Regions from separate parts of the Homo sapiens genome. Here region 1 is linked to region 2. The links come from fine-mapping of genetic effects on gene expression. Tissue or cell type: whole blood. Region 2 holds a variant in brackets; the other region holds the start of a gene. All regions are shown on one strand. Distances are between the middles of the regions.

The links. PIP is the estimated chance that this variant, and not a neighbour inherited with it, causes the effect.
Region 1: TSPAN5 starts here. The variant in region 2 is fine-mapped to the expression of TSPAN5 in whole blood (TOPMed, PIP 0.90).

What each region holds. Positions count from the first base shown.
Region 1 is chr4:98,653,766-98,661,871 of GRCh38, forward strand. It overlaps TSPAN5 (tetraspanin 5), which reads right to left and starts at 4,846. Exons shown (of 8, transcript NM_005723.4): 1 at 4,381-4,846. The coding sequence starts at 4,461. TSPAN5-DT (TSPAN5 divergent transcript) reads left to right here and starts at 5,137. Exons shown (of 3, transcript NR_148380.1): 1 at 5,137-5,257; 2 at 7,033-7,161. LOC112267901 (a long non-coding RNA gene) reads left to right here and starts at 4,958. Exons shown (of 3, transcript XR_939016.3): 1 at 4,958-5,107. RefSeq lists an enhancer at 1-703 and silencers at 4,411-4,570, 4,824-5,003.
Region 2 is chr4:98,467,404-98,475,509 of GRCh38, forward strand. TSPAN5 (tetraspanin 5) reads right to left here. Exons shown (of 8, transcript NM_005723.4): 8 at 2,964-5,184. The coding sequence ends at 5,119. Among named protein-coding and RNA genes, the nearest start is that of TSPAN5, 190 kb to the right of the region's middle. The variant G/A (reference allele first, on the strand shown) is at 4,583.

The sequences.
Region 1 (8,106 bases), 190 kb after region 2:
ATGTTATCTTTCCTTTATAAACAAGAAATTAAGGCTCAGTGCCTTAATACAGTAGACTATATTTTTCAAAGATGGCCACAACCTACATGACTTTCTGCAATGTGACCTTGACACTTCTCCATCAAAAGGTGGCTTCTAATTCTTCACCCTTTGAAATTCAGCAGTCTGCATGAGTGCTCTAACCAATGGAATAGATAAAAGTGGCACTGCCAGTTCTAAGTGGAACCTTAACTGGCTGGAAGCTTCTTTAAGACTTAGAGACAGGAAGAAGCCACGTGTAGGTAGGTGCTCCAGTGACAACTCTGGCTAAGCTCCCAGCAAGCATCAGCTTCCAGTCATATGAGTATACCATCTCAGGCATCCTGCCCAGAGGGCCTTCCGGTAAGTCCAACTCCAACTACATCTCACCACAACTGTATGAGACCCCAAGTGAGAACTGTCCAGATGAGCCTGGCCAAATCACAGAACTGTGAACTATAATAATAAACAACTGTGTTTTAAACAACTAAGCTTGGAGGTTATGTAGCAATAAATAACCAGAATATTGAGATCAATTTACTTGCCTGGGAACAGTTAAGTATCCAGAATCCAAAACAGTTAAAAGCCAGAATCCAAAAGGGCAAAACATCTATTAATGATGAGTGATGGGATGTGGTGTTCGGTACCCCAAAGAAATGACTTTAAAACAAAATCCTCTTTCTTCTCCCTCCCCCAAACCCAAAGCAGTCTCAGGGTTTTCTGAGAAATGTCCCAGTACGGTGACACCCTCAATAAAATCAATTCCCTTCTGTCTTGAATTGTTCCAATATATAACAGAGGAAACAAGTTTTCCCCCACCAGCCTGTGATAACTAATGAGAAAGGAATCTGTACAAGATGTTGACTTTGTTACTCAGAATGTCATTACAACTGTTATATAAAAGGATTCAGATTTTATACATGAAGCTGTAATTCTAATAATAAAAATATATTTAATGACTCACAGGACTACATTTGAGATTCACAGTGGGGAGAGAGAAGCACGGACACTATACCAGGAACTGAACAAGCCAAGAAGAAATTAGTGAAAGGTTTTTTGTTTTGCTTTGTTTTGTTTTTTTTGAGACGGAGTCTTGCTCTGTTGCCAGGCTGGAGTACAGTGGTGTGATCTTGCCTCACTGCAATCTCCACCTCCCGGGTTCAAGTGATTCCCCTGCCTCAGCCTCCCGAGTAGCTGGGACTACAGGCACCCGCCAACACACCTGGCTAGTTTTTTGTATTTCAGTAGGGACAGAGTTTCACCATGTTGGCCAGGATGGTCTTGATTTCCTGAACTTGTGATCCGTCCACCTCAGCCTCCCAAAGTGCTGGGATCGCAGGCGTGAGCCACCGCGCCCAGCCTTGGTTTTTTTTTGTTTTTGTTTTTTGTTTTTTGTTTGTTTGTTTTTTATGAAAGGATCTTTGAGGAAGAAATGAAAGTAATAAAACTAGTCTTCAGACAAGTCTCCCTAACAGAAAATGTCTATAATTTATCACGTGTCCTGGTATATACTACTTCTGTTATAAATTAGTGGCCAAACTCTTCTATTTTTCTTCTCCAGCATATTGGAACTCAAGAAACTCATTCTGTGTAAGAACTAGAAAGAACGTTATAACTCATCCACCTCCTTCAATTTAACAGCTGAGAAACTGAGGCCCAGGCAGTTAACTGATGAAGAGCCAAACTGCTGATCAGGAAAAGAACCAAGCTCTCAGTGCTGGTGCCACCATATGTTCAATTTTATTTTACCAGAACTATACCTTTGAATGTCACCAGTGTATGTCAAATGTAGTCTAGCAGTTCAGTGTGAAAATGAAAATTAGGAAACCATGCTGTTGGCAATCTCTTCTTCATAATTGTATGGGAGTAGCACCGAGTCTGCTGTTTTTGGCAATCACAGACAGGTTGGTGACTCTGTAGAGAGCAGAGGTGTGTAACTTTTCAGAAGCAAGCTGCCAAGCTACTGACCCCAGCTTTTCAGTCACTAACATCTTAGTCTGAATTACTTTAACCAAAACCATATGGTTGCCTTTCTGTTGATCATCACTAGAGACCATGGTACAATAAAGCAGGAAATTTAAATATGGGGTAATTTTGAGGCAGAGAGCAGGATAGGAAAGGTATGAGGGAGTATCTGAGAGGAAGGCTTTGGGCACAGAGAGGAGAGGAAGGGAAGGCAAGAGGCAGGGTAAGTGAAGGGCCCTCATAAGGAAGGCACTCACTTAACAATTCTGCCTGGGGCAGCTAGTTTAGTCCCATAGCCTAGGTCTCCTTTCAGGCTTCCCATACTCACCCACCCACCTATGAAGACCTTCACAATCAGAAAACATGCGGCTCTGTTCTGGACCTCTCCAAGCAAGCACTCTGCAATTCTTTGAAGCTCTCTACAATTCCAGGGGTTTTGCTGCAACCTAATCCATAGAAAGGGCTAAATTTGTCTCTATGCACTCCACAGAATTACAGCAAACTGTCAGGGAAACAGACCCAAATCCTTTTATTTCCTTACCACCCCCTGCTAGGAAACGGCAGAGAAAGTCCCTGGGTGCTTTTTGTTGCTGGGTAGCTAAAATGTGCAACTTTTAGAAATGTTCAAGTAGAAACAAGAGGCCTGAACTCACTACCCCAAAAAGAACCAGTCCCAGTTCGGTAGTCCGTGCCTCTCCAAGTCACAAAGTTTCAAGTTCCAATCAAATCAGAATATCTTACTCAAAACCGTGGCTACCCACCACTTTTAAACATTTTCACAAATGGAGAAGGGGCAAAGAAAGAAAATAATTCCTTCTTCCTGTACTTGTAGCAGTGTTTAATTGCAGGGAGGTGGGTGACTGCTCCCGGGAATCATGCACAACACTGGCAAAAAACTGCCTGTGGAATGATCGGATATGACATCCATTCATGTGTCCCCTCATTATCTTTATTAGTCCTGAAGACAGATGACATGCTGACACGGAAAGTGGTCTCCAATCCCTTGCATTTCCCCTCACAAAACATACATGACCAATGCAAGGTATTATAATAGAAAACAGAAAATAAAATAACCTGGTAAGAGTGCGGTACAAAAAAAGAATATGAAGAGCCGTATTGACAACTATTCTCACAGATGTATATACGTACAGCAAACAGCCCAAATTAAAGGAGAATTCAAATAAATACATTCCGTGTTCAGACTGCTGTGGATAATTATTGATCCTGCAGTTGGAGCATTGTTTACCTCACACTGAACAGCAACTTAGAGAACCCCCTACCCAGACAGCCACCATCTTTACTTTCTATGGAAATGCGGGTGCCCACTGAGGAAGAGGATGAGATGGGATGAGAAGGGGAAGAAAAATAACATGGTCTTTGAACCAACGTTTTCCCCTTGTCCTGGAGAACTCTTTGTCTGGCTGCTGAACACGTTTGCCAGATCAAGGAAAAGAATCAAAACAAACAAACAAACAAAAAGAGTAGGCGTCCCAGCCTAATTACAATAGGTTCCCAACACATTGCAGTCCCAAGCAGAGCATCATTTGAATCTTGTGTTAAAGCATTTGCTCTCTCGGTTCCCCAATAAAACATGCCTCGCACACCTTCTCCTTTGCATTTCTACAAAGGTTCCCCCAAACGGCCCGCTCTGTGTCACTCCTTTAAAAATGAGGACGTGGGGCAGGAACACACTGAAATATATGTTGACGGTGACTTATTATCCTGACGATGATATATACATACAAATAAATCCCTCTACCCCGCACCCCCACTGACCAGTCCATTACGCACAGGGAGCGCTTTCCAGCTGAAGAGGAGAGCGTGCAGGAAACGTTATTTACGTGCAATTACAGGACCATATACCACGGCATCTGCATCCTACACAAAGCCCGAGATGGTGCAAGAAGATACACGCTGAGCATGGCACAGACCAGCCGCGGCAACACGGAGCCAAGCCCTCGTCCAATCAGATCGTTGTTAGAAGGTGGACCTCAGGGTCGGCCGTGCCCGATTAGCCTTCCCTATTATGACACCACGCTCTGCCCAACATCTATATCCCACCGAGAGCAAATCCAATTCGTGTGGTTGCTCATTTCTCAAACTGCCGAACCCTTTCTTTTATCTGCATCCCTGCTATTCGTTCCTCAAAAAGCCACCAGAAGGCCTCGGTGCCCCCTTTCCGCCTCGATTTCTCTTTTCACCTCTTCCCATTCCTCGAAAGGATTAAATGTTTATCTCTCCAACGCGCAAGCTGGAAAGGCGGAAGGCGAATGCCTCTATGCTGCTCCGGCAAGCGCCTGCGGGGCTGCGAAAAGTAAAGGCAACGAACAACGTGGGGGAAATCGTCGCGAATCGATCGGCCACAATAGTTGGAATCCCAGGAGCGCTCCAACTTACCCAAAATATGACATTGAAGCCAAATATGAAGTATTTGATGCAACAACTGACTTCAGGACCCTTGTAGTGCTTCCCGGACATCCTCTGGGTTCATGAAGACACTTGCCCCGGCAGCCCGAGTTTGGAGCTCCGAAGCACCGTTGCTCGGAGCAGCCCGGCGGGGAGCAGGAGCTCAGGGACACCGCACGGGGCCGCGGCGCTGGCGGCCTGGGCTCAGCCGCGCGGGGACCGACCGGCGGAGAGCGGCTCCCGCACCTCCAGCCCCTCGCGCGCCGAGGCCGCCGGAGCCGGGGTGGCCGCGAGAAAGCAGGGAAGCCGCGCGCTGCAAGCTCAAGCCTCGCCGACGCTAGCCCCGAACACAAAGCGAGCGCCCGCGTCCGTGCGCCAGGCGGTCGGTCCGTCGGTTCGTCCCCGGGCTTCGGGCAAAGGCGGCCGCGGCAGATGCTGGTGGAGACGCCGCTCGCTTGCTCGCCCGCCCGTTCGCGCGCGCCCTCCCACCCCTCGCTCCGCCCGCCTCTCGCTCCGCCCGCCCGGCCGGCTGCTCCTCCGCCCGCGCCGCCCGCAGCTCCGCCCGCCGCCCAAGCCTTGGCTAGGCGCGCGCGCGCACGGGGTCGGGCGCTCCCGGGCGGCGGTGGCACCACGTAGCCGCCTCCTTCCACCGCTCGCTTTATCCCCGCCCCTTCTCGGGCCAACCCCAAGCGCCGCTGACCCCGAACGTCGCTGCGGGGTAGGTAGGGGGTGGGAGGGTGGAGGACCGCAGGCGAGAGGGAGAAGGAAGGGCGCCCGGGGAGCAGGCTGGCAGAGTGACCGGGATTGATGAGCGGCGCAGCTCTGGAGGGACGCGGGCGAGAGGGTCGCTCCTCGGGGAGAGGGCTGGGTGAGTGAGGACCTGCGAGCCACCCCCGACACCCCTTCCAGGGTAGCCACACTGGCGCCCCCTCCTCCACAACAGGCTTATGTGGCTAGAGAAGATGCGATGCCACTGGACAGGGAAGGAAAGTCGTCGTGGACTTCGCTGAATGGAAAAGGGGGTAGTTGGGGAAGGTGGAGAAAAGAGCCACGGGAAGTGGGAGGAAAGGATGAAGGGATGGGACGTTGAAAAGGAAAGCTTCCTGAATCCCTGTGTGACTCTAACCCAACCTCCCCACCTACCGGAGAAATGGGTTTTATCCTAGAAATGGGGACGAGGAAAAAGAGATGGCTCAAGGGAGTCCTGGCCCGGGATGCGATCCTCGCCCTAGGGTCTATTGCAACCACACAAACCCGGACAGCGCACGCTCCCCCCTACCCCGACAGAATAGTGCCTAAGAAACCTGCTTGCCTCCTAACTCTAGGAAGGAATCCACAACGGATTCCAGGGAGGTCTTCTGGGGAATCTGAATTGGGTTTTTGGATCACGAACCATTAAGCTTTTGAACTCTGGGGAAGAATAGAACAGGTGGCTGGAAATTGTTTTAGAACCCTACCTGAGCAGGTGTGCTCATTAGTTGCTTATCCGCCCTCCTCCTGGAGCACTTTCATAGGTGTTGGCAAAGCAGGTACCAGTATTTCACGGAAGGAGAAGGAAGAACCGCCCAGGACTGTGTATAAATGTCTATGGGAATATTTTTAAGGATTCAAAAGGCTAGAAGGAGGTGAGATCAAAAAATTTTTCCAGCACCACCCAGTGCAACCCGATCCTGGACACAGAAATCTAAAAGATGATACTTAAATACTTGAGTTTGAGAGCCTCTAGTTATAAGGTTTCCTACGTAACAACCTCTCACTTTTCTCAAAAACTGGCTAGTTGACAACCGGCAGTCAAGTTTTGGCTAGTCAAGAAGCTACTTTTTCCTGCAATAAACCACATTTAGAGATAGTACTGGGCTTCAGCAGGATTGAGGCTATATTGAGGTCGCAAGTATGAACGAGGTACCCACAGAGATGGGAGGGCCAGGAGATCCTACTCATTCAGTACCTCAGAAGCTATGACACGGGATAACAGTAGCTTCAGCCCTTTGGATGAAATAATCCTCACTCCCTCAAAAGTGCTCTCTACCCACTCAAAACACAGGCCATACTACCACCAATCTGGTAGACTTCAAAAGTAAGGTCTTTCAGCAGCAGATTTCCTTGTTAACAGGAAGGTACTGACAAGCTTTACCTAAGCCTATTGGAGCTATGTTGTAATTCTGTATATAAATAGAACAGTCGCTGCAGGAATACTGGATGAGTCAGAAGAAAGGTCTGTCCTAAGCTGATGTGACACATTTCAAAAGGACCAGAAATTAGATGCAATTGATGACTGAGTTGATCTCTAAGTGGATTTATCTTTGAAATAAAAATCAGTGGATATCCCATATACCCGACCCCACACCCTCCCCCATTGTCAACATCCCCAACCAAAGTAGCACATTTGCTACAAATAGTGAACCTACATTGCCAGATCATTATCACCCAAAGTCCATAGTTTACATTAGGGTTCACTCTTGGGGCTGTATATTCTATAGGGTTGGACAAATATAGAATAACATGAACCCACCCTCATAGTATCATAGTATCATACAGAGTATTTTCACTGCCCTAAAAGTCCTCTGTACACCACCTATTTATCCCTTCCTCCCCCCAGTCTCTGGCAGCCACTGAAGTTTGACTGTATCCCTGTCTCCTTAGTTTTGCCTTTTCCGGAATGCCATATATAAGGAATCATACAGTATGCAGTCTTTCTTTCAATTTTGCTGTGAAACTAAAACTGCTAAGAAAATAAAGTCTTAAAAAGAAAAATCAATGGAGAAGGGAAAGGTAAGATAACTAATCAGTAATTTGGAGGGGGGGGTGGAAAAACTAATTGAATTATCTCATTTCGTATATCCAAAATAAGTTCTATGAGGATTAAGGAGTTAAATATATTTTAAAGCAGACCAGAAGGAAAAATATTTGTCAAACCTCTGTATAGAAGTATTTCTCAACTTAGAGGCAATAGAAGGAAATAATCAATGGATATGATTGGGTAATATCTTAAACACTTCTACGTGTCCAGCTTTTTTTAGTGTAAGCTAAACCAGAAAAAAAATTGGCAGCAAACATGAAAAATAAAAACCTGAATGTCTATATTATAAGTAGGGCTCATAGAGCTATAGTAAAATATAGAATCGCAGTGGTTGAGTATAAACAGAAAATAAATCATATAAGAAATAAAATATATGGGGAAATTAATCTAGTAATAAATGAAGTATACATTAAAACTAATAAAGATACAAAAATAATGAGCACTGGTTAGCACATACATTGTTGGTGTCCTTATGAAATAATATGTCCATTTGGAAAGCATTTTGGCTGTATATATCAGGTCAGAGTGCTCCTACATTTTGACTCAGCAGTCCCTCTTCTGGGAATCTACCCAAAGAAATACCCCAGCAGATGGAAAAAGTTATACACTGCAAGATGTATATCATAGCATTATTTATATTGAAGACTTGGCCAGAAATTAAAGATCAAAGAGTAGGGGTGATATCCAATTCCTTGTAGTTACTTGGACCACAATGTTCCTTCACATTCTGTGCCTCTGCACATGTCATTTAGAGTTTCTGCCTGGGGCATTCTCCTTGTCTCTTGTCTGTGAGCTGATTTCTCTTATTCTTCACTACTTTTGTTCAATGTCTCGGAGGCTCCTTCTTTATTCCCTCAACACCCGCTGTGTTCTTCCATCCCGGCACTTAAAGGCTGCCTGTAAGAACTTGTTTACCT
Region 2 (8,106 bases):
ACCACATTTGAAAACTGGTGGGAGGACAAGGCCCAGCTCCATCCTGCCGCGATAAACTCCCAGCAGCAAGATCCCAAGCAGGATAGATGGTGATGGGAGCAAAACGTCCTGTTCTCTCATCTTTCCAAAACAAGCCTTGCCATTTTCAGGAGCGTGTAAAGGAAATAAAACACCTACCCGCCCTAAGCAGGCAACATAAGCTGTGTACCTTCAAGTTTCTCCAAAGCACAAGCGCCTCTGAACATACAGTGTTTTTATCCCTGAACTATTCCAACTCCAGTCCGGAGTGGTTTTACGCAGTCGACACTAGAGGGCAGGCCATTAAAACGTTCCCGTTCAAACGAGTTGCTCTGCAAATGCAAGAGCTGACACAGCACCTGAAGGTCCGCTCCGTATCTGAAAAGTAGCTTTCCCCCACGGAGAATGCAAGCGTGCGTTCGGTATGGGGCAAGAGCGTGGGAAGCCTGCTACTGCTTTCCTTTCGGGGCATATTTACAGTGAAAGCCCGTGAACTCGCCTGCTCTTCCCTTAGATTTACTTTACTTGGGAATTCCTAGAAGTGGAAAAATAAATCACAATGGCCAGTGCGGGTCCCCAGAGGTTTAGCCCCGGCTAATGGATAACAGGAAGGGACTAAATCAGCCTCCTCTCACCAGCGGCAAGTTTACAAGAGAACCACTCAGCATGAAAACGCCAAAGCAAGCTGTACTTAATCCCTCAAGAAGTCCTAAAAACTGTAATTTTATTAAGTTAGAGACAGGGTCTTCCTCTGCCAACCAGGATGGAGTGCAGTGGTGCGATCATACTTCACTCCTGGGCTCAAGCTGTCCTCCTGCCCCAGCCTCCAGAGTCGCTGGGAGTACAGGTGCATGACGCCAGGTCCAGCTAATTAAAAAAAATTTTTTTTTTCATTTTTTTAAGACACGGGGTCTTGCTATGTTGCCCAGGCTAATCTTGAATTCCTGTCCTCAAGCAATCATCCTGTTTTGGCCTCCCAAAGTGCTGGGATTACAGGTGTGAGCCAGCCACCTTGTCTGGCCTAAAACTGTAATTTTATAAACTCTTTGTGGCAAACCCCTCCAAACAAAAAGGCTCGGGTGAGTGTAAGGATGGCTTTGCTCCAAGTTCAGAGTTTGGCTTCTCCGCCGTGCTCCCTGCCCCCACCCACCCCCCCACCCCCATCTGACTGCCTTGTCTGTTATCATGTGTAGATTTTCTATGGATTTTATTGTGTCATCATGATAAAGCCAATGTTAATGTATTTTTCAGGCAAATGCTGCATTTTCCTCCTCAAAGACTAGGCTTCTCACTCTGGAATTGGGCAGCACCTAGAAGCAGCCCCATGGCCTCACTGGAGAGAGCTCTGGCCATGAAACCCTGCTGGCCAGCGTTTATAGAGGGCTTCCCAGTTCTTCATTGGAGGTCTAAACAGGATTTCCCTAGAGAAGGAGGGCTTCGTGGAATAAATGACAAAGGGAGTTGGGGTGGCCTGCCAGGTCACTGGGCTCCAGCTCCTCATTGTTCAGCCCACAGGCTTCCCAGGGCGCCTGTCCAAGCCAGCCGGAAACAGACGAAACTGCAAAATCACTCCATTCCTGCCCACACAAACACGGGGAAATGAATGATCACTTTGCACAAGAAACCTCCAAGAGACACTTTGAGGATCCCCTTGAGGAAAGGACAACTGGGACCTGTGGCAGGAAGAAGGCTGAAAGAAAAGTCCAGGTTTATTACTCCCTGGGAGAAGGAAGAGGAAGAACAAAGGAAATGCACTTCTTTAAGTACTTCATGATGCAAAATATTTTTAAATTCCTGAGTTCACATTTAAAAACTGTATATTTTTAAATTATAGGAGCAATGATGTTAGTGGTAACCAGCCCAACAACAGAAATAAAGAGAAATTTAATAAGCTTCCCCTAAAGTCTACCTTCTACACATTGAAGAAACTTCCTCCAAGTTTTTGAGTTTTATAGACAAAGCATCCTTTTACTTCTGAGCTGTCATTTTTTTTTCCTTTGTTGGCTTATAGTTTGCAACAAGCAAAGAGGGCCAATGTAGACAATAAGAAAACTCAAGAAGCAGGGATTGGCCATCTCCAATCATCACTGATAAATTTCCTTAAAATCAAAATAACGTTGTTTCAAATATCTGAGATATGAGGCAAAACGTTTCTTGAACAAGTCTGACACTATGTTGTCAGGATCTAAGTGTGCTATATGAACCTTAAAATTTGTTTTCATTTGATCTTTGAAAAAAGTATTTAATCAGTTCTAACGACGGAAGTCTTCTTCTGCAGTGATAATTCACAATGAAAGACATTTAAGCTGACGTTTCTCTAATGGGTTTTTAAGATTCCAGCTCCAAGGGACTGTGAGAAATTATTTTCTTATATAAAAGGTTGTGAATATTATCAACATTTATCTAAGCCCATAAGTCATAAATCCCACCAGGCATTAAATTTTCAAGGGAGCTTTTAAAACATAGATTACCCTGTCTCCCACTCCAGAACTGCTAGGGGTAAGGTCTGGGGAATCTGTATTTCACATGGTCCCCAAGTGATTGTAACCAGCAGATGACCTCATGGGCAGGGATTTCCTACATACGAGGCTCTGGCCTCTGTGTCTTGTCAGTCAGCATTTTTAAGTACAAAGGAACCTTTCCCTTCCCAACTACAAAATCTTACCTTTCTGTTTCCCCTCCTAGAAAACTGGATCAGAACAATGCTTCTCAAAGTGTAGTCCCCAAACAAGCCGCAAACAGCATCACCTACGATCTTATCAGAATACAAATTCTCCAGCCCCACCCCAGACCTACTAAGTTAGAAATTATGGGCACGGAGCAAATGCATTCATGTGTTTTAACAAGTCCTCCCAGTGATTCTGACACCTGCTAAAGTTTGAGAACCACTGGATTCGAAAATTTCACAATTTCAAGAAAGAAGTAATGAAGAAAGACACACCATGTAAGGTAGAACCAAGTTTATTAATGACAGCCTTTATTACAATCACTCTCAAGTGTAAAAAATAAAGGGTGATTAATTAATATTTAAAACTCACTCGGACTTGCTGTTTGGCCTTTCAGTGGATGTGCCAAAGGGCAGGGATCTTGCCTGATTCTGAATCAATTGGCCAGATGGAGTTCACTGGAGAATGAGGCAATCAACAAAAAAGACAAATGATGCCAACTGGAGAGAGCTCGTGTCTTCTCCATGTTGGAAGGACATTACAAAATGGCAACTGTGGTGGGGGCAGAGATGAAGTAAGACAACCTTACAGTCGGAGTAAGATGTGAATACCTCTACCTATACAGAGACAAAAACACACACATGCAGAGCCATACACACACCCAAACAGTGAACACAGTTTTGAAAATAATTTCCTTTTTGTCCTTTCTCTGAGCAGACTGACACATTCATCGGCCACCACCATGCACCATGGGGCTGAAATGGAAAACCTCGCTTAATTTCCACAAAGTATTCTAGCTGGCTGCCCAGTTATGTGCTGGCAAATCTGTCCGCACCGAAAAATGTGCCTGTGGTTTTCCCAGAGTTCCACAGACTGATATCTGCTCCCCAGGAGGGCAACATCCGGTGGACACCAGCTGGATTAAAATCTAGAGGGCAAAACTCGTCCCTCCCACCTAAAGTGGGGGCAGGAGCGGCAGCACCAGGAAGTGGTTTCCCACTTTGTGTTACAGAGTACTTGCCCCAGTTCAACGCATTCCCCTCCAAAGTATTTGTGCTTTGATACCATCCTGATGGTTAGTCTGCAATAAGAGAACTGAAGGAGCTATGGCCATGCACTATTTTCTTTTTTTAATAAAAGCAAACTAAAACTGGAGGAAGAAAAAGAAACCATTAGAAGCTTTTGACTGGGTCAATGTTGTTTCCAAATTGGGTTTAATTCCATTCAAAGAGAAAGAAGGGGAGGGTGCAGAAAAGGCCACTCAGATCGACTCTGGAAGAGATCATCAAGACCAGGGAAGCATTTGGATGGTACAGCTGGTCTCTTCCCAGCCAGACTGGGAGGACATGCCACAACCTCCCAAGGCTGTGAACCTAGGAAATAAGTGCTGACCAAATAACATATTTCAATGTTTGTAGAAAAGCTGGCAGGAAAGGGAGATGATGGATTCAGATTCACAGGTCATGCAGATTAAGACTTAATCAAAAATTAATGCTTGAGCTGAGTAAGAAAACACTAAAATTTAAGTGGAACTGTATCATAGCTTTCACCTTTGGAAGACGAAAAACAACAAACATACAAAACAAAATGACCCAGAATATTCCAGAGTTTCCAAAAATCCAACTGCTAATTTTGGCAGGGTGAGAAGAAGGGGATATTTAACTGATACCTCTTCATTAACCTCATTTTCTCCTTGAATTTCACTGATAAACAAAGCTCAGGTCTACTTAGAAAAACGATCAGTCCTGCTAAAATACAGCCTCATGACGTCTTCCAATGCCCTTGCTCGGTGCACATGAAATACACAACTTCTCTTATAAGGAGACTTTCCAGGATAGACCAAGTGTGCTCGCCCAAGTGACTTGCTGAATACCATCACAAAATCTGAACCCAAAGAT[G/A]AGTTGTTTTCTTCTTCAGATGAGAGTTGCAAGTGTTTCCTAAAATGTACATGGAGGGATGCCCACAAACCACTGCCCTCCCAGGTGAGGGGCTGAGTCTTTGAGGAGATGCACTCCTTCAGGCCATGGAACAGAAAGAAGGTGGTCCGTCCAAGGTGTGGTGAAGAGCAAAGCTGCCTCTCCCAGCCCTCCAATTACGGAAGATGAGGACAAGAATGTATTTTCTGCACATTCAAGTACATCTGGGTCCCCTACCCTCCCTTTTTTTCTTTTTTGGTAAGCATCTAACTGTCCATAAATTCATGGCTACAGTAGAGATTCACGGCGCAACGACTTTCATACTGGTTATTTTTTTTTTTAATTCTGTCAGTGAGCAGCATTTCCCAGTTTTACACTCCCCTAATGGCAGCTCCATTAGGCGAGACTGCAGGCTGCATCTGTGATTAGGTCCATGCAGCTCGAAGATCAGTTCGGCACGCGGGAGGGTCCCGAAAGCTGGGTCTGTCCAGTGTCTTGCAGCAGCGGTTGCAGGGGGTCTACCAGCTCGCCCTGACAGCTTCGATATCGCTAACCAAATTCTGGGCCAGGCATATCCCAAATATCTGAGAAAGGAAGAAAATGTGAGTGAAACAGTGACACTTGTAACTTGTTTCCCTGGCCACTGTGTCCCATTTTTTTAAATCATTGATTTTTGAAATTTAAGATGTAATTCATATGTGGTAAAAAGCATCCTTGAAATGTGTATAATTCAGGGGCTTTTAGTATATTCACAAAGCTATGCAACTATCACCACTATCTAATCACAGAACATTTCATTACCCCAAAAAGAAACCCTGTACCTGTGAGCAGTCATTCCCATCCCACCATCCCTACAGACCTAGCAACCACTAATCTACTTCCTGCCTCTGTGGATTTGCCTCTTCTGGACATTTCATATCAAGGGAATCATATAATATGGGGCTTTTGTGGCTGTCTTTTTCATGTAGCAAAATATTTTCAAGGTTCATATACATGTGCTATTAATTTATTCCTTTTGATGGTTGAATGATATTCCATGGCATGGATATGCCCCATTTTGTTTATCTACTCCTCAGTTGATGTGTATTTGCATTGCTCTCACATTTTGGCAATTATGAATAATTCTGCTATGAACATGAGCATACAAGTTTTTGGGTAAACACTTTCTCAATTCTTTTGGGTACTCCTCTAGGAGTAGAATTGCTGACTCATATGGTAGCACTATATTTAACTTTTGAGAAACTGCTAAATTGTTTCCCAAAGAGGTTGCAACATTTTCATTTCCATTAGCAACATATGAGGGTTTCGTTTTCTCCACATCCTTGCCGATACTTGTTATTGTCTGTCTTTTTTATTCTAACCGCTTTAACGAGTATGAAATATGTGGCTTTGAATTGCATTTCCTTAATGACTACTGACGTTGGCATCTTTTCATGTGCTTATTAGCCATTTTTTTTTTTTTTTTTTGAGACGGAGTCTCGCTCTGTCGCCCAGGCCGGACTGCGGACTGCAGTGGCGCAATCTCGGCTCACTGCAAGCTCCGCTTCCCGGGTTCACGCCATTCTCCTGCCTCAGCCTCCCGAGTAGCTGGGACTACAGGCGCCCGCCACCGCGCCCGGCTAATTTTTTGTATTTTTAGTAGAGACGGGGTTTCACCTTGTTAGCCAGGATGGTCTCGATCTCCTGACCTCATGATCCACCCGCCTCGGCCTTTATTAGCAATTTTAATCTTTAGAGAAATGTCTGTTCAGATCCTCTGCCCGTATTTTTGTTTGTTTGTTTGTTTTTTAATAATTTAAGGGACTGGGTTTTGCTCTGTTGCCCAGGCTGGAGTACAGTGGCGTGATCATAGCTCAGTGCAGGCTCCTGCCTCTGCTTCCCAAGCAGCTGGGATTACAGGGACAAGTCACCATGCCTGGCTGCCCATTTTTAAGTTGTTTGTCTTTTTATTGTTGACTTTTTAAAGTTCTTTATTTTTCTAGATACTAGGAGTTATCTTTTCACTGTCTTGATGGTATCATTTTCAGCACAGTTTTAAATTTTGAAGTCCAATTTATTTACATTTGTTTCATTGCTTATGCTTTTGATGTCATATCTAAGAAGACACTGCTTAATCCAAAGTCACAAATATTTATGCCTATGTTTTCTTCTGGAGTTCTATAGCATTAGCTCTTATATTTAGGTCTTTGCTTTATTTTGAGTTAATTTTTACATATGGTGTGAGTTAGTCTAAATTCATTATTTTGCATATCTAGTTTTCCCAGTACCATTTGTTGAAATGACTGCTCTTTCCCTATTGAATGGTTTTGGTTCCCTTGTCAAAAATCAACTGACCATATACGTACGAGCTTATTTCATCTTCTTTTTTGAGATAGGATCTTGCTCTGTCACCCAGGCTGGAGTGCAATGGCATGATCTCAGCTCACTGCAACCTCCCAGGCTCAAGTGATCCTCCCTCCTCAGCCCCCCAAGTAGCTGGGACCACAGGCATGCGCCATCATGCCCAGCTAACTTTTGTATATTTTGTAGAGACAGGGTTTTGTCATGTTGCCCAGGCTGTTTTGAAACTCCTGAGCTCAAGTGATCCACCTGACTCAGCCTCCCAAAGTTCTGGAATTACAGGCATGAGCCACTGCACCCGGCCTTATTTCTTCTTTTTAATCATATATATTTTTTTCTTATTTTTTTGAGACAAGGTCTTGCTCTGTCACCCAGGTTAGAGTGCAGTTGCATAATCACGACTCACTGCAGCTTCAACCTTCTGGGCTCAAGCAATCCTCCCACTTCAGCCTGCTGAGTAGCTAGGACCACAGGCATGTGCCATTACATTTGGCTAATTTTTTTATTTTTACTTTTTGTAGAGACAAGGACTTGCTATGTTGCTCAGGCTGGTCTTGAACTCCTGGGCTCAAGCCATCCTCCTGCCTTGGTCTCTCAAAGTGCTGGGATTACATCCATGAGCTACCACACCTGGCCTGGTTTTATTTCTTGATTTTTCAATTTTATTCCACTTCTCTATATGGCTAATCTTACTCAAGTACACACTATGTTGATTACTATATAGCTTTGTACTAAGTTTTGAACTGGGTAGTGTGAATTCTCCAACTTTGTTTTACTTTTGCAAATTTGTTTTGGCTATTATGGGTCCCTTGCTTTTCCATATGAATTTTAGGATCAGCTTGTCCATTTTTGCTAAAAAGGTGGTTACAATTTTGATAGGGATTACACTGAATCTGTAGATCAACTTGATGAGTGTTGTTACCTTAATAATATGAAGTTTTGCAATTGTGAACACAGGATATCTTTATATTTACTTAGGTCTTCTTTAATTTGTTTCAACTATGTGCTCTTTGGAAAGTATCACACCAACAACATGAAGAGTCCAGCTCTTAAGACTGGCCAGGAGGAAAAGTGGGTGCTCCCTTCCTTCACTAGCACTTTGGCAAGGTAGTTTAGGGAGAGAAAGGGGTATGACATCTCTGTGAAACTTCCCAAAACCTTAACGT